Regions from separate parts of the Homo sapiens genome. Here all the other regions are linked to region 3. The links come from fine-mapping of genetic effects on gene expression. A gene starts in region 3. Each other region holds a variant in brackets. All regions are shown on one strand. Distances are between the middles of the regions. Region 1 overlaps NUP210 (nucleoporin 210). Region 2 has its middle 150 kb from the start of NUP210. Region 3 holds the start of HDAC11 (histone deacetylase 11). Region 4 has its middle 9.8 kb from the start of FBLN2.

Evidence for each region. PIP is the estimated chance that this variant, and not a neighbour inherited with it, causes the effect. A credible set is the group of variants that fine-mapping cannot tell apart.
Region 1: its variant is the best candidate, but not a certain one, in a credible set for the expression of HDAC11 in whole blood (TOPMed, PIP 0.52).
Region 2: its variant is the best candidate, but not a certain one, in a credible set for the expression of HDAC11 in whole blood (TOPMed, PIP 0.85).
Region 4: its variant is the best candidate, but not a certain one, in a credible set for the expression of HDAC11 in cerebellar hemisphere (GTEx, PIP 0.87).

Annotation. Positions count from the first base shown.
Region 1 is chr3:13,333,888-13,339,031 of GRCh38, reverse strand. It overlaps NUP210 (nucleoporin 210), which reads left to right. Exons shown (of 40, transcript NM_024923.4): 26 at 1,115-1,195; 27 at 2,114-2,245; 28 at 3,420-3,578. Among named protein-coding and RNA genes, the nearest start is that of NUP210, 84 kb to the left of the region's middle. The variant G/A (reference allele first, on the strand shown) is at 2,650.
Region 2 is chr3:13,272,090-13,277,233 of GRCh38, reverse strand. It overlaps a transcript of IQSEC1 not described here. Among named protein-coding and RNA genes, the nearest start is that of NUP210, 150 kb to the left of the region's middle. RefSeq lists a silencer at 1-100 and an enhancer at 127-627. The variant G/A (reference allele first, on the strand shown) is at 2,093.
Region 3 is chr3:13,477,601-13,482,744 of GRCh38, reverse strand. It overlaps HDAC11 (histone deacetylase 11), which reads right to left and starts at 2,439. Exons shown (of 10, transcript NM_024827.4): 1 at 2,396-2,439; 2 at 1,351-1,499. The coding sequence starts at 2,397. It overlaps HDAC11-AS1 (HDAC11 antisense RNA 1), which reads left to right and starts at 2,692. Exons shown (of 2, transcript NR_046690.1): 1 at 2,692-3,102. RefSeq lists enhancers at 1,718-2,374, 3,024-3,083 and a silencer at 2,074-2,563.
Region 4 is chr3:13,536,781-13,541,924 of GRCh38, reverse strand. No RefSeq gene overlaps it. Among named protein-coding and RNA genes, the nearest start is that of FBLN2, 9.8 kb to the left of the region's middle. The variant G/A (reference allele first, on the strand shown) is at 1,992.

The DNA of each region.
Region 1 (5,144 bases), 140 kb after region 3:
GACATTCCAGACCACAGGAGACTCTGTGGTTTTTTTTCTCTAAAAAGGAGTGCAGCCTCAGGAGCTGGCTGATTTTTCTCCTGAGGGCGTAGGTAAAGGGCAGCTGGCTAGAAATTCAGCAAGAGGGGCACAGGGCCCTGCGTATTCCTTGTCTTTGTGGTCTAACCTTGCTGGGCACCCTCCCTTCTAGGTCCCCCATCTGGCAGGTTGGGGAGGTGCTGGGGAAAGGCCCTGGTGGTCCTTGGCAGGTGGAGGGGCTGCACCACGAGCCCTATCTGAAAGGCATGTTCTGAGCCCAGGCAGGCAGAGGTTTCACCTGCGGCGCCTTGTCCATGCCTGGAATGTGATTCTGGTCAGATGCTTCCAGTTCCATCTGTCCAATCCAGAGCACACAACCAGCACCCCAAGGCCGTGGGGTGGGCCAGGACTAGCAGGAAGAGACTGAGCAGAAAGATGAGTGAAAGGAGGGGAATGGGTGCTTTTCAAGCACTTACTGTGTGCCAGGCATTAGCCCAAGTCATGAGCCTCAAGATGGGCTCAGCCTGAGCACGTCAGAGAGTCTAAGGGTTTTAATAGCCTCAGTTCAGCATGACTCAGCAGCACTAGGAAGAAGCCAGGAGAGTTAGTCTTTGGCCAGATTAATAGGAGTGTGGAGTTCAGAATGAAGGAGGTTATAAGTTCTGATCAGACTCTACAGGGCTCCTGCATTCGTCCCTGTACCCTGCTCAGTCAGAGACAGGCAGGCTGGATTTGGGGTTGGGAGGGCCTGGAGACCTTTTGCTTGAGGGCAGCCAGGCCTAAGGAAGAGCAGGCACCAGTCCCCGGCCCCAAGTCTGCAGTGCTGACCTGGAACAGCTGGATCAGACAGGGCAGCAGCCTCAGGGGACTGGGTTGGGACCTGCGGGGCCTTGGGAGAGGCAGTGGCTGGCCCATGAGGGGAGAGCCACTCACAAAGCCAGGCCTCCCTCGGCAGAGGAGCATGGTGCTGGTCATCCTGAGGGGCCTTCTCGCCACAGACTCTGAGCCGCAGCCTGCTTCCCTTGAGGGGTCCCTTCCTGAAACATCCCTGGCCAGCACTGCATCCCCACACCTAAGTGCCACCCTGTTTCCCCAGGACCTCGTGCAGGTGGAGGTGCTGCTGCTAAGGGCCGTGAGGATCCGCGCCCCCATCATGCGGATGAGGACGGGCACCCAGGTGAGGGGACCTCCTGGGCTCTGAATCCTGGTTCCCGAAGAGCCACTGCTGGGACCCTGTCCTCAAGTTAGAGTGCTTCTCCACCTCCTCCATCTGCCTGGCCCGGGTATCTAGGGCCTGCTTCCCACCTGTCCCCACCCAGGGAGACACCCTCCATTGCTCTCTGGTAGCCACTGATGAAGGCCTGCTTCCTGCTGGCCTGTCACCTTCCCACATCTGGAATAGTACCAGGTGCCTAACAGGAGCACAGTGACTGTGGCACTTAACTCAACTCCGTGCTGTCTTGGACATTAATCCATTTGGTGTTCATAGCAGCCCTGGGAGGCTGGTGTCAGAACCATCTTCGTGTCGCAGATGAGCAAATGAACACACAGAAAGCTTAAGACCCGTGCCCAGGGCCACACAGCTAGGAAGTGGCAGCAGTGGGAGTGGACTGGGCAGCCTGGCACAACACCTGCTGTGGCCTTTTGCCGTCTTGCCTCCGCCTGTGCCCTCAAGCCGACACAGCAAATAGAGACTAAAGGAGCCAGGGACCCCACCCACACGTGCCCTGTGAGCAGGGACCCCAGCTAGATTAGGAGAGAGGGGCCCGGAGGAACCAGCACTGTGGGGCAGCACGAGCTGTGCTGCTGGGGGACCCATGGCCTCCTAGAGCTCCAGGGACTCCTTCCGGAAATGAGTATCTTGGCCATGGAGAGGTGCAGCCCGCTGCAGGGGAGGGACAGTATGGGGAAAACAGTCCCACCTCTGGTTTGCTCGTTTGATATTTCATCAAAATTCCCAAACCTGTGCCATGCTCTTCTCTAGTTGGGGAGGAATTGGGTTCATCTCCCACTGCTTGAAGGAGGCAGCAAAGCTTCTGGGGGCATTCCCAGTGCTGGGAGCTACTGCTCACTGGGCCTGACTTCTCCCCTGCAGATGCCCATCTATGTCACCGGCATCACCAACCACCAGAACCCTTTCTCCTTTGGCAATGCCGTGCCAGGCCTGACCTTCCACTGGTCTGTCACCAAGCGGGACGTCCTGGACCTCCGAGGGCGGCACCACGAGGTAGGTAACCACCCCCTCCAGAGCTCACCTCCCACCCCTGTCCCAGGCCAGCACCCCGAGTGGCAGGGAGGGTTCCTGCCACATTGTCCCACAGGAAGTCCCCACCCTCACACCTAGAGAGGCCCGCCCACTTTCTTCCCTCTCCCGAGGCTCATCGGGACTCCCTTCTCCCAAATGCTAAACACATAGACGGGGTGAGTAGGTGCCTCTCCCAACAGAAGCAGCCGTGTGAGGAAGTCACAAAAGTCCTGGGAGGTCAGAGTCTGCAGCTTCTGACCATTTTCTGAGATGATGCCTGGCAGCCCTCGGTTTCTCCTGGTTCATCCCAGAGGCCAAATTCCCCTTCCCTTAGCCCAGCGAGGGGCCCTGGCTTCTCCTAAGATGTCAGAGCTGGAAGGTGCCAG[G/A]GAGACTACTAAGTCTGTCTGTGTTAACTGAGGCCAGAAACGGGAAGGGACTTGCCCAGGGTTGCCCAGCAAGCCAGTGGGGAAATGGTACTGGGCACCAGCCCCTGTGACTCTAGGCCCAAGCCCAGGTGGGCCTTGGACACACAGGACCCAAGTGGAGGGTGGCTTGAAAGGTCGCTCCCTGCCTGATTCAGGGACAGTGGGGATGGAGGCCTGGAAAGAGACCAAAGCCCAGGGATAGGATTTCCTAAAGGCTGCCTGAAGCTTGTCTAGTGTGGGACGAATGCCCCCCGACCCCACCCAGTGGGAACAGAGTCCTGTCCCTGGTGCCCGGGGGCTCCCCCAGATTGCTCCCATGGAACACAAACAGTGAGACTTATTAGCAGATATCCCCAAACAGAATAGTCTGCAGGGACACACTGCAAAACCCAGCATCGCTCTGGGTGACCTAGAAGCACTGAAGTCTGAGGGACATCCTGTCATGAAGGCCCCTGGCTTACGTGGGTGGGCCCAGTGTTTTCCAAATGCATCTGTGCATGTTGTGCGATGCAGGCAGGGCAGGACCCGGGCACCCATGCTGGGGAAGCCGGGTCTGCACAGCTCTGGGGTTAGCAGACCCAACCCAGGCAGGAAGGCAGAGCCCTTGAGAACAGGCCAGCAGCTACCAGGACTGGGGGGCTGGGGGGTCTGGGGCTACTGTCCGGCTCTGCCTTTTTGAGGACACAGGGGCCTGGGCCTTACCCCTGAAAACGTGTTTGATGTCTTCCCAGGCGTCGATCCGACTCCCGTCACAGTACAACTTTGCCATGAACGTGCTCGGCCGGGTAAAAGGCCGGACCGGGCTGAGGGTGGTGGTCAAGGCTGTGGACCCCACATCGGGGCAGCTGTATGGCCTGGCCAGAGAACTCTCGGATGAGATCCAAGTCCAGGTAGGAGGCAGGTGGAAAGGCCACAGGGAAGGGGGAGAGGAAGTGCCAGCTGCCCAATCTTCCTTCGGGGCCACATGTTGCATGGGCAGGGGCTGAGAGACCTGAGAAGCTCTCAGTCCGTGGGGATGACAGTGGTCCATCGCAGTGGGGTAAACATCCGGGTGTGATTGGTGCTATGGGAGCCCAGAGGTGGGGCCAAGCAAAGGCTTCACAGAGGAGTAATGTTTCAGGATGGGAGGGGCTGGCAAAGGCCTGGAGGTGGGAACTCACTTGATGTGTGGCCAAAAGAGCAAAGAATTCTGAGCTTGGGGCTCACTGTGTCTGAGTGGCTGATAATTTAATCGTTTGTGTTTATTTAACACACATAGAGCACCCAACAGAGGCTGGGGCGCCCTTGCACGTTTTTCAGTATTGCTGCCTCCAGTCCTCAGGTGAAGCCTGCGGGGCAGGGGCTGCAGGGGCTGCCACCTGCTGATGCCCCTGAGGCGGGGAGGGTCAAGGTCACAGGGTAAGTTGGGGGTGGCCTCAAGAGGCCTGGGGACTGTGCCCTGTCTGCATTTGGAAAACAGCCTCAGAGAGGGAGGCGCCTTGTTCAGAGCCAGGGGTCAGGACTGCGTCTAGTGGTTCTCCTGCCTGGGGTGCAGCCCTGTGTCTGTATCCAGCCTGTCCCTGCTACTTATAGGATGGGCTGTGGGCGAGTTCCTGCCCCTCTGGGCCCCTCTGCAAGGTGGAGAGTTGGCAAGTTGGCTCTGAAGAGCATTTTTGTCTTCAAGGGCCTCGTTCTGCTCCTCTGGGCCTCAGTAACCCCTGGGTGCTCCTAAGCTGTAAAGAAAAACAAAAAGTGTTCCTTATATGTCCCAAGAAAAGAAACAGTTTCTAGTCCCCGCCTCAAGAAGAAATAAACTATGTCTAACCCAAGCACCTCCCTGATCAGGGGCAAAGAAGCAAACTTTTCAAGAAAGAAACACCCACAAAAAAACCCCCACCGATCTGCCAACCCCTCACCCCTGCCTGCACATGCACACACACACGACACACATGCACACACAGACACACATACATAGAGACACATACATACAACACAGAGGTACACATGCACATCCCCACACTCACCAAATGCATGTTCTTTGTTAAAAGGAAGTAAGTCCTGGAGCCTATCATGGAATTAAAGGCAGGGTTTTGCAGCTTCCAAATTCTGTAACCTCAGTTGGGTCACTTGGCAGCTCTGTGCCTCTGTTTCCCTATCTGACAGCAGGTAGAGTTTGAGTAAATCAGAAACTAGAGAATCTGGATCCAGCCTACAAACGTGTTTTATTTGGCTCACTCAGGCCTTTGAGACAGCTTGTTGTCATGTAAAGATAGGAAGATTCCAGGTAAAAATCTAAGATGCAGCATGTCCTAAAGATATGGTGTCTGCCACAGCAAAATCAGCAGGCAATGAGAAGCAACCTTGACTCCATTAGAGCTGCACTCTCCAGTTTGCCACAGGCCCCGCCACTCCCTGTTTTCTCCCTGACAGTGATATCAAGTATCAGTTGCCATTTACCATGGTGCTCATGCTGTTGC
Region 2 (5,144 bases), 210 kb after region 3:
ATCAGCGTTTTTTGCCAGCTGGGTGGCTATTTCTCAGCTGTTTTGTCTATGACATTGTTTTGACAGCTGATCCGGTCTTTTGTGTCTTGTTTTCTGTTTTTTTTTTTTTTTTTTTTTTTTTTTTTTTAAGGAGGAGCAATGCTTTGCCTAACTTGGGAAGTGCACCATTCTGAGCTTGTCAGGGTGTCAGCCGTATAATTGCCACAGAGCAGCAGAAAAAACAACACAGGCCAGCCAGGCATTTGGCAAGAACTGGAATAGGGGAGAGGGAATTGACCTAATTGAAATGGAGCAGAGGCTGCGGTGGGGCCAGGAGGCAGTCCGAGTTCAGCGGCCTCCAGTGTGCTGCCCCCACCCAGGGCAGACCCGGGCCAGGCTGCAACCAAATGACTTGAAGCTCTGAGGTAGCAAGGCCTTGGGAGTTTGAATCCTGCCCTCCGAGGGGTGGATATTCCAGCAGGATGCACCGGGCCAGTTATGGCAAACGTTGGGTGCTTCTGTTTTCATCGGGAAACGGCTGCTGCCTTGAGGTTGCCAATGCCTTTCTCCAGCCCATCAGCCTTGGCCTTGCTCTGGGGACCCTGCAGGCCCCCATCTGTGGCTCCTGGACAGTTAGCCCTGTCCCCGTAGCAGGCTGGCAGGATCCCAGCCCTGCCTCAGCCACTTCCCTGCTGCTTGGACTTTCCAAGTAACAGCCCCAGCCTCTCTGAGTTGCTGTCTCTCCCCATGAAAATGGAGAAGGCCACTTCCGTGCAGGGAGAGCAGATACAGGAGTTGCCTGTGGCCCCGCATTAGGTGGTGGCTCCAGGGGAGGAATAGCCAGGGCATCAAGAATGCTTTGAAGGAGGCCAGGTGCAGTGGCTCACACCTATAATCCCAGCACTTTGGGAGGCCGAGGCGGGCGGATCACGAGGTCAGGAGATTGAGACCATCCTGGCTGACACGGTGAAACCCCGTCTCTACTAAAAATACAAAAAATTAGCCTGGCGCAGTGGCAGGCGCCTGTAGTCCCAGCTACTTGGGAGGCTGAGGCAGGAGAATGGTGTGAACCTGGGAGGCAGAGCTTGCAGTGAGCCGAGATCACGCCATTGCACTCCAGCCTGAGTGACAGAGCAAGACTCTGTCTCAAAAAAAAAAAAAAAAAAAAAAAAAAGAATGCTTTTGAGGATTGTTTTCCCTCAATGTTTTATTACAAAAATGTTCAAACATATAGAAAAGTTGCAAGAGCTGTATGGGGCAGAACACTGTCCCCCTGGATTCTGCAATGAAGGTTTTGGAATATTTACTATGTTCCATGCCCCTCCGTCCTTGGAGTTCTGGAACTCTGTGGATGGGGAGCTCACATCGGTAGAGCGCCTGCTGTGGCCCAGGAGCCGGGCCCTGCACTGCCTGCACCCGACTGCCACCTCTTCTACTCACACCCCTTCCTGGGCTGCTTGTCCTTGGTTAGGGCCGCTCCCCCACTGCCTCCACTTGGAAACATCATGCAAATAGGAGATGGAGACCTGTACCTGGAAGATTACAGAGGGATCAGGCCACGGAGGAAGGGGGCCAAGTGGTGTGCAGCCCCAGAGCACGAAGCGAGTGACCACCCACGGGTGTCAGCAGAGGCTTCCTGGAGGACGTACCTTTGAGCTGGGACTTGAAGAGCAGGAGAGAGGAGGAGGATGGTGTCAAGGCAGGGGAAGCAGCATGTGTGGTGTGTCTGTGCCCGGGGTGTGTGAGGGGCTGGGCGGTGCTGTCATTGGTTGTAACAGGTCGGTGCAACTGGGCCAGGTGAGGCCCAGATGGGCACAGACCAGCCTAGGGCACTTGCCTTTCTTAGAACCCAGGTATCAGTTTTAGGGAGCTGGTGGACAAGACTGGCCCCTGCCCTCCAAGCTGGGCCTAGCTTGAATCCTGATTTTGAAGTGTTCAGCTTTCCCTCTTGGATGAGGCGAGATCCACAAAGGAACGGGTTAGAGACTGTCGTTCTGCACCTGAACTTAGAATGTGTTGATTGTAGTGAGGCCACAGCAATAACCGAGCCCGTTCTAGGTGCTGCCTGCTGGGCACATTCTTCTCCATGTCTCTGTTGATGCTCTAACCCTGT[G/A]ACAAGTGTGAACTGTCCTCATCCCATTTCGCATATATGAAACCTGAGGCTCAAAGAAGTTAAGTGGTTTGCCCACAGTCACCCAGTGGCAGCGGCGGGATTCACACCCAGGTCTGTCTGCCTCCAGGGCTGGTGCAGTTCACCACCACGCTGGGCTGCTTCAGAACTGTTCATTGCATTGTGTAGATGTTTTGGAAACATTGGGGGCCGTTTCCAAATGTGGCATGGTCCCTTCCCCAGATTTTTGGCTTCAGGAGCCAGAATGAATGTAGCTTTGTCACCCACCTGGAGACAGCCCAAGTTCCTTCTCTGCAAAGCAGCTGACAGTGGTTGCACCCAGCTGGCAGGGCTGCTATGGGCAGTGGGTGCCAGTGTGCTTGGGGAGGGCCCTCTAAGCCATGCAGCACACCCAGCAGCCAGTGCCGGGTGTTCCTCTCTGAGTTGGTCTGACCTCCCCACTCCGCTGAGATGAACACTTGCTGAGCTCCCAGAAAGTTGCTGTTCACGTCTTCATTCATGCAGGACACACTTGGGACATGTGGTCGCAGGGGAGGGTTGGGATGGGGGCCCCTCTTCTGGCTTTGCCCCAGCTTTTGCTGGAAGCACCTGTGGTGGTTTAGCTGTCCTTTGCTCTGCATACCACTTGCATGAAGAGCGTCACACCCGTGGAGAACCAAGGGGCCTGAGCCCGCCCCCTCCGTGGGAACCGCAGGAGCACAGCTTGCCAAGGGCAGAAGACAGGGCCTGCCCAGAGGGTGTCCTGGGACCGGTAGGGCAGGAGGGTCCTTGCAAGTCACTTGTAGCTGCCTGTGGAGTGCTGGCCCTGCGAGGACAAGGTGCGGGGTGGGATCCTCTGCTTCCTGGATGGCCTCAGCGCTCAGGTGAGAAGTCCTTAGCACGTGTCTGGTGGTGTTGGGGGACAGCCTCTGGGGACACTTCCGGGGGCAGGCATGTTTGTGGATGAGATTCACGGATGGGCTGCAGGGCCCATGAACAGCCCGAGGCTGAATGGGACCTGGTGGGGTAGCCTGGGAAAACCCAAAGACAGGACTGGAGGGAGGGTCCCGGCTTTGGGATTTGCTTGTACTTTCTCCCCCTCGGCATGTGAAATGCACCTCTCTGAGCCTCAGATTTTTCATCTCTGCTATGGGGACAGTGACAACTGGATCTCCCTCTTAGGGTTGCCCTGAGTGGGGAGTGTGCCTGGCGGCGTGGTTGAGGTGCAGGGAGCGGACCAGTGTGCATGGGGCAGAGTGAGGGGGAGGGCATGAGAGAGGAGGGTGGAGGCAAACAGGGCAGGGGCGAGGGGTGAGGCAGAGCCAGCAGGGCCATGTGGGCCCACTGGGGACTTTGGCTTTGATCTAAGGGAGACAGAAGTCCCTGGAGGGTGTTGAGCAGAGGAGGAAGTGATGGGACTTAGGTCTGGGCAGGATCTCTGGCCCCTGGGGCAGGCATGGGTACCAGGGTGAGGGAGGCTTCAGGAGATGCTGCAGAGCTGGGTGCTGGGATCCTGGGCAGAGGCTGCTGGGATGGGCAGGAGCACGTGGGCTGGGGCTGAAGGCACACGGCCCCACCCTCTCTTTTCCCCCAACAATCGCCAGTTCAGATGGGAAGGAGAGAGAGGAGTGGAACCAAAGGAGTGGCTCCAGATGGGAGGGGCCGTGCCCATCTTGGCTGCCTGCAGCAGTTCTTGGAATGGGGAGTTCTTGAAACGGGGAGTTCTTGAAACAGGGAGTGAGGTGGTTGGCGACACCCCTGGACTCTGCCTCTGGCTTCCCACACCCAGGCCACTCCCCTCTTTCACCTTGAGGGAGGAGCAGCCCAAGCAGAGATGTTCACTTCCCTTGGGCTGGCCAGGACTTCTAGATGGCTTGGGTGAGGCTCCCGGTGGAGTATTTGGGCAGCACGGTGGCCAGGAGCCAGGACACAGACTCTGGGGCCAGGCCAGCAGCCTGAATCCCAGCTCCCTCCACATGCACCACCTGTCTTTGTCTTCTCTGGCCTGTGGCTGAGCCTCTCTGTGCTTCAGCTTCCTCACCTGTAAAATGGGGTTATAAAACCTCCCTGCTAGAGGAGTGGCAAGGATTACATCCTTGATGTATGTAACTGTGCACAGAGCCACTTGTATCATTATTGTTTCTTCTTTCTCTGTTGAGAAGGAAAGTGATTTTAGAAAGTCATGGAATTTAGAATCAGGTGACTTGGGTTTCAGCACATGTCTCTTATCTACCCACTTCTCTGCATAGTTAATGCTGCTGATTTTGAATCCAACCCTTTGTACGATGTGTTATCTCAATCCCTTTAACGCTGCAGCCTCTTCACATGTTTTAAAGTTGTGGAGTCTTAATTTTATTAAATTGAATTAGGGCCTCCCCGACAAAAAAGGAGGAGCCTGGAAAGTTCCATCCCCCTCCCACAGCCCATGACATGCTCACATCTCTGTCTTTACTTTCTGTGAGGCTTTACTCTTACCCAGCTCAGCAGTTGCCGGACATCGAGATGTGTAAAAATCCGCCACCTAAAAGGGGTGTGCGGGGTGACTCTGACCATCCCCTTTGACCCTCACCCCTAGGTTGGCCTGCTTGCCCTCCCTGGCACCTACTGTGAGCCAGTCTCTGGGCTAAGGAGTCAACAGATGCCCCCGTACTGGGGCTTCACCACCACCAACTTTCCCTTTCACCAGACGATCCTGCAGGGCTGTGATGGACCACATCAAATAATGGGAACAAAGGTGTCTTGAAAGTGTAATATTGTACGAATGAATGTCTCTCACCTAGGGATGGAATGTGAGGGGTTGCCGCCACCCCTCCATTGTTGATGAGCAATAATAGCAACCTTGATGACTGGCTATTTATTGTAAGCACTTGCCATGATTCTGTGAAGTGGGGAGCATTATTATCTCCATGGTATATATGGGGGAACTGAGGCAAAACAAAGCAAGGGTGGTTGGGAAGGTTGTGGTATGAGCAAGGATCAGCCAAGCATATCCCTATCAGAGCTGTCATCTAGACATTTTTAGGGGACTCTTAGTTTCAGTCCGTTTTGTTCAGAG
Region 3 (5,144 bases):
CACAACCATAGCTCACTGCACCCTCGAACTTCTGGGCTCAAGTGATCCTCCTGCCTCAGCATTTCAAGTAGCTAGGACTATAGGTGCATACCACCACCCCCAGCTAAGTTTTTTATTTTTATTTTGTAGAGACAGGATCTTGCTATGTTGCCCAAGCTGGTCTCAAACTCCCGGCCTCAAGTGTTCTCCTAGCCTTGGCCTCCCAGAGTGCTGGGATTACAGGCACGAGCCACTGCGCCCGGCCTCCCTCCACCTTCTGATGATATTACAGGAGGCTCAGTGTGGCATGGCCTCGCAACACCTGCCTGTGCTTTGCTCATCTTCCGTTCAAACCACTAATCAGTCTCACAGCCTGCAGGCAATAGTAACCAGCCTGGATTGAATTATACTGTTGTTTTCATTGCATTTACTTTTTTACCATGACCTATTTATGGCAAGTGAAACTGCCTTTTCCCATTTTGATGACATAATGTTTCCTTTTAAAACAAGTTTAAGTGAATTTCCCACCTAAATCAGGCCCCTTGATTACAAACCACAGTTAAAACGATATGCTCTTCGAAGCATCATTTTGCTCAAGGGGATGAGCCCTAAAGGTAGGGCGCCTGGAGCTCTGAGTTCCAAACCCAACTCCGCCTCTTGTAACTGTGTTACTTCAGCCACTAATGGGAGCTGTGTCCTTCCCTGGAAAGAGGTCACAAGCAGGCAGCCAGTGTGCCCAGTTCGGTCTACAGGTGGGCTTTTACAATCTTATAATGAGTGCCATATTAAGAAATCAGGGCCGGGTGTGGTGGCTCACGCCTGTAATTCCAGCTACTTGGGAGGCTGAGGCAGAAAAATTGTTTGAACCTGAAAGGCGGAGGTTACAGTGAGCTCCTGAGCCTCTGCTGCGATTGTGGTGCCTACCCCGAGGGCTGCTGTGAGGACTGGACTGGAATTGGGTGCACATGTTTCCTAATCATTCTAGGACACAATTTCCCCCATCTGTAATCAAGAGAGGTGCGGTGGAGGTGCTCTACCTCCTGACTCTCTGAACCTTAGGAAATGGACTCCTCCAAGCTTCACCTTCCCTGTGCCCATCAGTAATCAGCTACCTTTCCACTAGGCCTCTTGGGCAGAGGCAGGACTTAGGCCCACAGGATGGGGAGCCAGGGAGAGTCTGAGTCAGGGACATCATATCGTGATTAGGAGTCTGTGTTGGAAAAATCATTTTGGGCGGAAGCATGGGTGGAAGGCCATCCGAGGGCTGAAACTGAAGATGGGAGAGAGCCTGAGGCTTATGTTGGGGATGAGGACGGAGAGGACAGGTGGGTTGGAGGAAGCAGATGAGAGTCCAAGGGGGACCTTCCATACCTTTTAGGAAATTGATCACTTTGCCCCATTTTCCGGCATCAAAGGGATGCAGCTTCTCCAGGCCCATGAAGGTGATGTTGTAGCGCGGCGAGTACACGATTGGCCAGCGTGTCTCTGGCACATGCTGGTACAGCTGGGTTGTGTGTAGCCTACCGTGTGGAAAAAGACAGACGCACAGCTGGGGCAGCCTCGGCAGAAAGCAGCTCCCTCCCGAGCCCGCCTGGACTGACCCACCAGCCATTGCCCAGCACCACTAGCCCCTCAGCCGCAGACAAGGGCCCCTCAACAACAGCTGCTTAAACTGGCTGCCTTTCCCGGAACCCAATTCCAATCCAGTCCTCACAGCAGCCCTGGGGGTAGGCACCACAATCGCACCAGAGGCTCAGAGAGCAGACCAGGTGTGCCCAAGGTCACAGTGCAGGTCTGTGGAGAAGCAGGCGTGCACTCAGGTGTGTCTGGCTGCAAGGCCTCCGCGCATCACCTCTGCACCGTAATAAATGCCCCCACAGCTGTGTGGCACAAGGCTTCGGCTGCAAAATGTGTGGCTGTTGTGAGGACTCAGAGAATGCAACTGAGGAGCTGAGCACAGTAAGCACTCAGAAACCCAAGTCGGGACCCAACCTGAGCCAGGGCGGGGGGCGGGGATCCCCTGACCCCGCTGCGCTGCTAACCCTTCCCATCACACCCTGGCAGTCGTCACCCAGAGACAGAAATCCGCCCCAGTGGCTGCCTCCGTGGGGGCGTCCGCGTAGCCAGGGGGCTGGGCAGCGCAGACGTCAGACCCGCGCACATCGCCCGACCGCTCCGGGTCCGGGCCCAGGCCCGCGGCCGGCGCGCGTCCCTCGGGCCACCGAGCAGGGGCGCGGGGCTGGCCTGGCGCGCCGGGAGGGCCTGGAAACACCCGTCCCGAGCGTCCCTCACCCCTCACCAGCAAATCTGGGCCCTTACCTGGCGCGCCCGCCCGGCCGTCCCCGCCCTCGCCCTAGCGCGCCCGCCCACCGGGACCCCTGGGAGCCCACCCCCGCCCTCGCCCCGCGGCACTCACATCCCGGGGCCGGCCCTCCCAAAGCTGGCCGCAGCTCCGCGACCGGGCGGGGCGGGGCGGGGCGCGGGTGGGGCCAGCCCAGGACACGCCCCCGGGCTTAGCCGCGTCCTCTGGGGGCAGAGCTCTGGCCGATTTGGCCCGCCCCGCCAGTGTTGCGACACAGAGAGCCTGCCCGCAGGAAGGCCACCCCCAACGCCCATCAAGCCCGAAGTCCCGCCTCCGCAGGCAAATACCCGGTGGAATCCCGCCTGGTTCGGAAGCTCCGCCCCCTGGCGGGAGGGCCAAGCGGGTTTCACCCCGGCCTCGCGGAAGGGGCGCGACCACCGTATGTCCTGTTCCTGCGCTTCCCAAGCTGGGTAGAAACGGCGAGAGGCTGGGGGTTAGAAACGACAGGTTCCCGGCGGGCTGTGCCGGGGCTTCGCTGTGTGACCTTGGGCTGGCGTCTGGGCTCTCTGGGCCCTTGTTTCCGCGAGTTAAACGTAGGGGCGGGGGAGTTTCTCTGGCCCTGCCGCCTGTGACCTAAGGAGCCCCGTGACCTCTCCGACCCGAGCCCACCCCCGGCCCAGTCTGCGAGCAGCTCCGGGACAAGCACTCCCGGCGAAGACATGTAGGCTCTCAGAGCCTGCGTTTCCCTCTGTAGAGCAGGCCTAGTTACTGTCTTCAGGGTGCACGCGTCTCCGTCCCCGACCCGCACCCTCACCGCCGGGGTAAGCTGAGCCAGGCCCAAGCGACAGCTGGGGTTGTCCGTGGGGCTGCAACCCAGGAGGAGGCCCCAACAATAGAGCCCCAGAGGACGGAGACAATGGGCCTCTCTGTCGGCCCAGCCGTCCCCGCCATCCAAACAGAAGCAGCTGACGGAGGACTGCCGGGCTGGGATCCCTGGGCTCCGCGGGGGCGGCTGTGTGCCAGGGCGGGGCACAAGGGAAGCGCACAGACGTTTGAAGAGGGGCCCCCGTGTGCCTGCCATGATTGCATGATGGCATCTGAGCCTCACAACCTAATCCTGAGAAAGGTGCCATAATCACCCCAACTTTATCTTGAGGGAACTGAGGTTCGGGCCTGGATTAAACCCAAACTCGGCCACCCGCCAGCATAGTGGCTTTGGGCAGGTTGCTTCAGCCTTCTGGTCCTTCATGTCTGCATCTGAAAATGAAGTACTGGGCCGGGTGCGGTGGCTCACGCCTGTAATCCCAGCACTTTGGGAGGCCGAGGCGGGTGAATCACCTGAGGTCAGGAGTTCGAGACCATCCTGACCAACATGGTGAAACCCCGTCTCTACTAAAAATACAAAAAATTAGCTGGGCGTGATGAAGGGCGCCTGTAATCCCAGCTACTCGGGAGGCTGGGGCAGGAGAATCGCTTGAACCGGGGAGGGGAGGTTGCGGTGAGGCCGCGCCATTGCAATCCAGCCTGGGCGACAAGAGTGAGACTCCATCTCAAAAAAAAAAAAAAGGAAGAAAATGAAGTTCTGGTTGCACTTCATTCTCTGGATTTCATGGGCAAGTCCAGGGAATCAAGAGACAATAATGTTGATTATTATTCAGAGACCATCTGTCATGTGCTAAGTTGAAGTCCAAATGCTTTTTGCTTGTCGAACTCTTCTGACAGTCCTAGGAGGCAAACTATTGTCATCCCCATTTTATAGATAAAGAAATTGAGGCACAGAATGGTGAAGTAACTCACTCAAAGGTCAGGGATGTGGGCAGATGTAAACCACAGAAGGAATAAGTACTATTTTATAAAGTGACAGAGTGCATGCAGTGGCCCTGTGGCATTTGTGAGAGACCGACTTCCCCTCAGGGAACTTGCTCTGTAGTTTGGGAAGCCACACAGATGATCCTCTGGTTGGGAGAATGAGGATCTGGGCAGCCTGGACCTGAAGCTGAGGCCAAAGAGAGTGGGATTGGTCTGAATAAGTGGGTTTTTAAATTTTTTTAATTTTTAAATTATTTTTTAAGAGACACAGCCTCACTATATTGCTAAGGCTGGTGTCTAACTCCTGGGCTCAAGCGATCCTCCCACCTTGGCCTTCCAAAGTGTTGGGATTACAGGCATGAGTCACAATGCCTGGCCAAGGGTTTTTAAAATTGTGTCCTGGTAGCTAAAGAGTTAAGTGGTCTGCGGAGGCCCTGGAGCTTGTGAACACCTTCAAACCACCATGAAAGCCTGGGCCAACCGGCCGCATTATCACGTGGGGAAGAAATAAGTGTTATGCACGCTGCTGTGTTTGGGGGCCTCTTTGTTGCAGTATCCTAGTGTGTCTGCTCACTAAGACACAGCACTGGGGACACAGCTGCACAGAGCAGATGAGTTCAGAAAGCCTTTGTCAAGCTAATAGTTTAGTGGGAGAGACAAGCCTTAACCTAGGAAGGAAAATTGTGATTACAAAATGTGGTAACTGCTGTGAAAGGCATAGGCTGAGACTGTGAGAGAGAGAATAATGGGGTCCCTGATTTGGACAGTGGTCAGGGAAGGCCCCTTTGAAGAAATACATTTTTTCACTTTTTAACCATATGTATTTTATTTTTAAATGGCATTTAATGAAACAAGACACTGACTTATTGAACATTGTATACTTAACTGTTTTTCCCCTTTCATGCAATATTGAAATATATTTCAACTTAAAACAAATAAGAAAGTCCCAAATATAACACTTCTTTTGAAAAATACAGGCACGGCTGGGCGCGGTGGCTCACGCCTGTAATCCCAGCACTTTGGGAGGCCAAGATGGGCGGATCACCTGAGGTCA
Region 4 (5,144 bases), 59 kb before region 3:
AATTTTAAAAATTTGATGTAGACAGACCTACCAGTATTTTTCTTTGTGGTCTATGGTTTTGGGATTGTGCTTGGAAAGCCTTCCTCTATTCCAAGATAGAAATAGAATAGTAAGCTACCTATATTCTATTCCAGTTCTTTTTTCATCCATCCATGAAACCTTCATTTATTGCTGCCCTTGAATCTAACCCCAAGCCCCTCTGGCTGCCCGTCCCATGCAGCTGATGGCTGGTCCTCCAGCAGGTTGCCTTGTTATGGGGCAAGAATTTCCAGTTATACCTGGAAACCTCCCCTTCTAGGAATGTGAAGAAGGGAAACACATCTCTGTTTAAATAACAAACTTTGGCCTCTGAGGCTCCAAGTAACCTCTGGTTACCTGGCAGGACTTGACCCAACCCATCTTGGGTATAGATGGGTTTTGGATAATTAGGATTATGGTGGCCATGAAGATGTATCACTCAGATCTCGACTTATCTCTGCAGCATAGGTCACTGACTGCTCCTCCACACCTGCCATCACATTTGCACTGAGGCCACTGTGAGCTGCTCCCAACCAACGACAGAGCACAGAGCTAGGAATGGGAATGCAGCAATATCCCAGAGAGACCCAGGACTCCTTGCACTCACCTGCTGGAAAAGCTCCCAGGCCCAATCATCATCCTGGCTGAAGCTTTTTGGAATTGCATCACATTCCAAGACTCCTCCTGCCCAGTCCTTCTTCCCCTTCTCCCAGCACAAGTGTCAGAATTGTGCTGCCCTCTGAACTTCTCTCTGCCTTCTCCTGCTCCCTCCCTGCAAAATTTCCTTGCACATCTAATCCTGTCTTGCTTGGCAAAATCACTTTGGGCTTCTTAACAGACCGAAACTAATCCAATGATAGAAATGGTGATTGAAATCGTCACTGCATTATACAGTTTATGAAGCTCAGACACAGCTGCCTCCCTTGCATGTCCTCCACCAGCTGAAGGTTAAACACTGGGTGTCCCCACTTCACAGATAACAAAACTGAGACAGCTCAGAGGCAGCTGAGCTTGGGTCCCCCCAGGCAGCATGAGTGAGTCACACAGCCCCCTGGAGTCCCAGGCTCTTCTCTCTAGGCCTCTCAGCCCAGAGCCTGTGCCTGGGGCCACGGCCCAGCAGGCTCTGTGTTTCCTCATCCGGCCCTTAGGCCCTGGGGCCCCAATGGGCCACTGGAATGCCAGGAAAGACAGAGCCTGGAACCCCCTTCCTTGGGTGGAAAGAGCCCAGGTGCCCCTGCCCCAGCTGAACCCAGAGGAAGGAGCCAGGAACTGAGCTATGGGGTGGGAGGGCAACACCCTCTCTTCTTGAGCAACTCTGGATGTTGAGAGAAAAGTCATCCTTGCACAGAGAGGTGACCCCCTTCTGGGTTCTGGCCCCACCCTCTGGTCCTCTTGGCCTGTCTGCTTCTCCTCAGCCAAAGCCTCAAGGCTGCTCTTCTGCAGGCTGAGCCACCCCAGCTGCTCTAGTATCCTGGGGCCAATTCAGCCGTCCCTCTTCCAGGACTATTCCAGGGACTGAGCACAAGTCCTTAGAGTGGTCTGCACGGCCCATAGAGAACTTTCACTTTCCACATTCCAGCCTTCAGGCCATGTGACCTAAACTGGCAGTAGTTATTCCGGGTGATGTATTAAGCTGCCAACACACTCTGACTCCAGGGTCCCTTGACCTCCTAGCTGAAGGTCCAGAGCTGCTTGGCCATGGGCAGGTCTGTCCCTCTGTCCTGAGTATCTTCACTGAGTTGCCCTCTGGTCTCTTCCCATCCCTCCCGCTTTCCCCCAGGTGCTTCAACCCCTCCTTTCTCCAGGCCTCTTCACCAGGGCCCTGATAAGGGAGCAGATGGGAGACCCACATCCTCTGGACCACACTGGCCAGCTGGCCAAGCCCCTGGAAGTAGAGAAGACCCCCGCAAGGTGTGCCTTGATCCTTCATTTCCATCTGTCGGCCCTGGCCTCCCGACATGTTCGGGACATGG[G/A]CCCAGTCTCGGCTCCATGCCCCTGATCTCCACTCACCCTGACCCCCAGCAGGAACATAGCTTCAGTGTCCATCCAGCCATCTGTGCAGCCATCCGCCCACACAGGGATGACATAGCACGTGGTTACCAGGTCAGACTCTGGAGCCAGGCTGCCTGGGTTTGAAGCCCAGCTCTGCTGCTTAGTAGACATGGGACCTGGGAGAAGTTGCCTCTCTGTGTCTCAGGGTCCCAACTATAAAATAACTGCCTACCTCGGCATGCTGTTGTGAAGACTGAGTTATATGCTTAGGAGTGCTTAGGAGGTGGTTTGCATGTGGTAAGTGCTCAATAAGTATTAGCTAATATTACTCAACAAACCTTTCCAGGACACCCACTCTGTGCCAGGTACTGTGCATCCTACCAGGGCTCTGGCCATGAGTAGGGCTGACTCGCCCCTGACCACATGGAGCTCACATTCCAGTGGGAGATAGATATAAATCCAACAACCTCACACCCACACAATAAGAAGCGCCTTGAGGCAGTGCTGCAGGGGAGGTGGTGCGGACAGTGGTCAGCTGGAGCCCGGCTGCCTGGCTGTGTGCTAACTCAGACTCGGGAGGCTCCTAACCACTTGGGCTTCCTGTCCTCTTCCATAAAATAGGAACAGCAGCTCCTACATCGCCAGGCTTTGGGAGGGCTCCATGAGTTAACCAGTGGGAAGGATCAGACAGGGCCTGGCACACAGGAAGTGCTCAAGGACAGTTAAGTGGGCTCTGGGAAAGGGATCCGGAAGCTGAGGAGTCCACTGAAGGGATAGTTGGGGAGACGAGGAGGTGGCAGGGTCAGGCCTCACGGGGGAGCCTGTGGGCACGGGAAGAAGCTCCATGTTTATTCTGAGAGCGGTGGGAAGCCACTGGAGGAGGCTGGTGCAAGAGTCCAGGTGGGAGATGATGGGGTTCAGACAGGGCTGGTGGCATGGGGGCAATGGTAGGATTGGAGAGACACTGTGGGGAGAGGACACTGGTGTGATGCTGGGAGCCAGAGAAAGGGAGGGGCAGGCTCACACACACACGCACACACACAAACACACACACAGGTTTCTGGCTCAGGAGGTGTGAATGACAAGTTGGGAAAGGGTGCCAGTCTGGACTTACTGCTGCAAGTCACAGTATACTTGACTCAAAGAGGCTAAGTCAAGAAGGGAACTATTGACTTCAGTACCGACAGAGTACAAGGGTGGACTTCAAGCACAGCTTGATCCAGTCCTTCAAACATGTTACCAGGAGCAAGTTTCTCCCCCATTGTCACTCAACTCATAACCCTTCAAGTCCAGCTAGAATGCAGCACTTTTGCACTGGTCTTAAGGTTCTCCCCAAATGGAGGGACTCAATTCAGGTGCCCAGGCCTGGAACCAGTCACTGCCGTGGGGATGGGCTGTGCTGATTGGCTCTGCCCAGGTCATATATGTGTCCAGAGGCCTGAGCAGGTGGGAGGAATCTCCACGTGGAAACTGAGGGCTGTTCCCAGATGCTGGAGAGCGATCCATGAATGGCCCCAAAAGGGTGGGTAAATTTGCAGCCTTGAGTTTCAGGTCAATTTCTTGGACATTAAATTCAGACACTGTCAGATATGTATTTAGCACACATTTTTAAAATATGTTCTCTCTAAAGTTTTCAACAGACAGAAGGGGACTTCATCAAGCTCCTCAGTGATTGGCTGTCAAGTCGTGGAAGCCCCTGTGATCCAGCCAATGAGAGCCCAGAGATACCCAGAAATACCCAGATCTCATAGGGTCGTTGGCTCCCACTAGGCTGGGAACCGAAGGCCAAGCACACTGCGAGGGTCTGATGGAAAAGCAAGTCGCCTGTGGTTGGTGACTAATAATAAAACAAGCAGGTTACACCCATTGCAAAAATGTTAGCCAGCAGGAGAGAATGTGACATGAGCCCAGGGGCTGATTCGGGTCATGTGCAAACACTAGAAAGGGGTTCTGTGAAAAGCATGGGCTTCTTGACCCAGAAATCCTCTCTGGGGCCCCTTCCCAGTCACACTAACTCCCAGAGTTTCCTTAAAAGTGTTCCCACTTCTGTATGCACCCCTAATCTGTTCAATTAGGGCTGTTTTTGAACTTGATATAAAGAGACTCATACTTTAAGTGTTCCTCATTGCACTGAGGAGATGAGATGCATCCATCAGTGCCTACAGGTGGTCTTCATTCCTTTTCAGTGCTGTATAGTATTCTACTGACCAGCTCTTGCATACCGAATGATTCTCTGTCTATGGATATTTAGATTGCTTTCTGGTTTTTGTCATGTTTTGTTTTTCCTGTTACAAATAATGCTGCTATAACCGCCTCGTGCCTGTCTCCCTGTGACATTTGTAGACATTTGTATGAGTCCTTTAGGGCAGACGTACAGCTAGGTCATGGGACATGCACATATTTAGGCTCATCAGCTCATGCCAAATACTTGCTGCAGAGTGTTTGTGCCCATGTGTATTTCCACCAGTTGCTGCCAAGCGTGCCACCTCCTCACCAACTCTTGTGTGCCTGTGTAGTAGGTGTGAAATGGTACCTTGGTGTGGTTTTAGTCCACATGTCCCTTGTTACTAATGAGGATGAACATCTTGCCATGTTCGTCATCCATCTGCATTTTCTTTTTTGTGAAATTTCTGCTCATGGCTTTTGCCCCTTAAAACATTGCTTTCTTCTTTGCAATCACTAATTTCTAAAGCACAATCTGGCCATGGGACTCCCTGATTTTAAGCCCTCCGTGGCTCCCTGTGGGCCTCGGAGTCAAGCCCATACTCGGCAGCCTGGCCGGCAAGGTCCTAAAGTGGTTTGGCTCCAGTCTGTGTCTCCGTTTTTGATGGGAGCTGTTTCCTGTTTCCGCTCACGGTCTCCCCTCCCCCGACTCCTGCTTCCTCCACTGGCTTACCCACTCTCTGCTCTCTGCAACCTCCCAGCTCCTGCTTGTGCTGTGCCACCTGCCAGGAGCACCCTGCCCCTCCCCCAGGGCACCTCATTCTTTCCTGGCTGCTTCTTTGTCAGCCTTCAGGTCTTAACTGAAACCTCACCTCCTCCCAGGAGCTCTCCTGGCTCACTCTCACCCCCTGGACTGTGCAGCCACAGCACCTGTGAGCGCCTGTCTCGGGGCACTACTCCTGTGACATCAA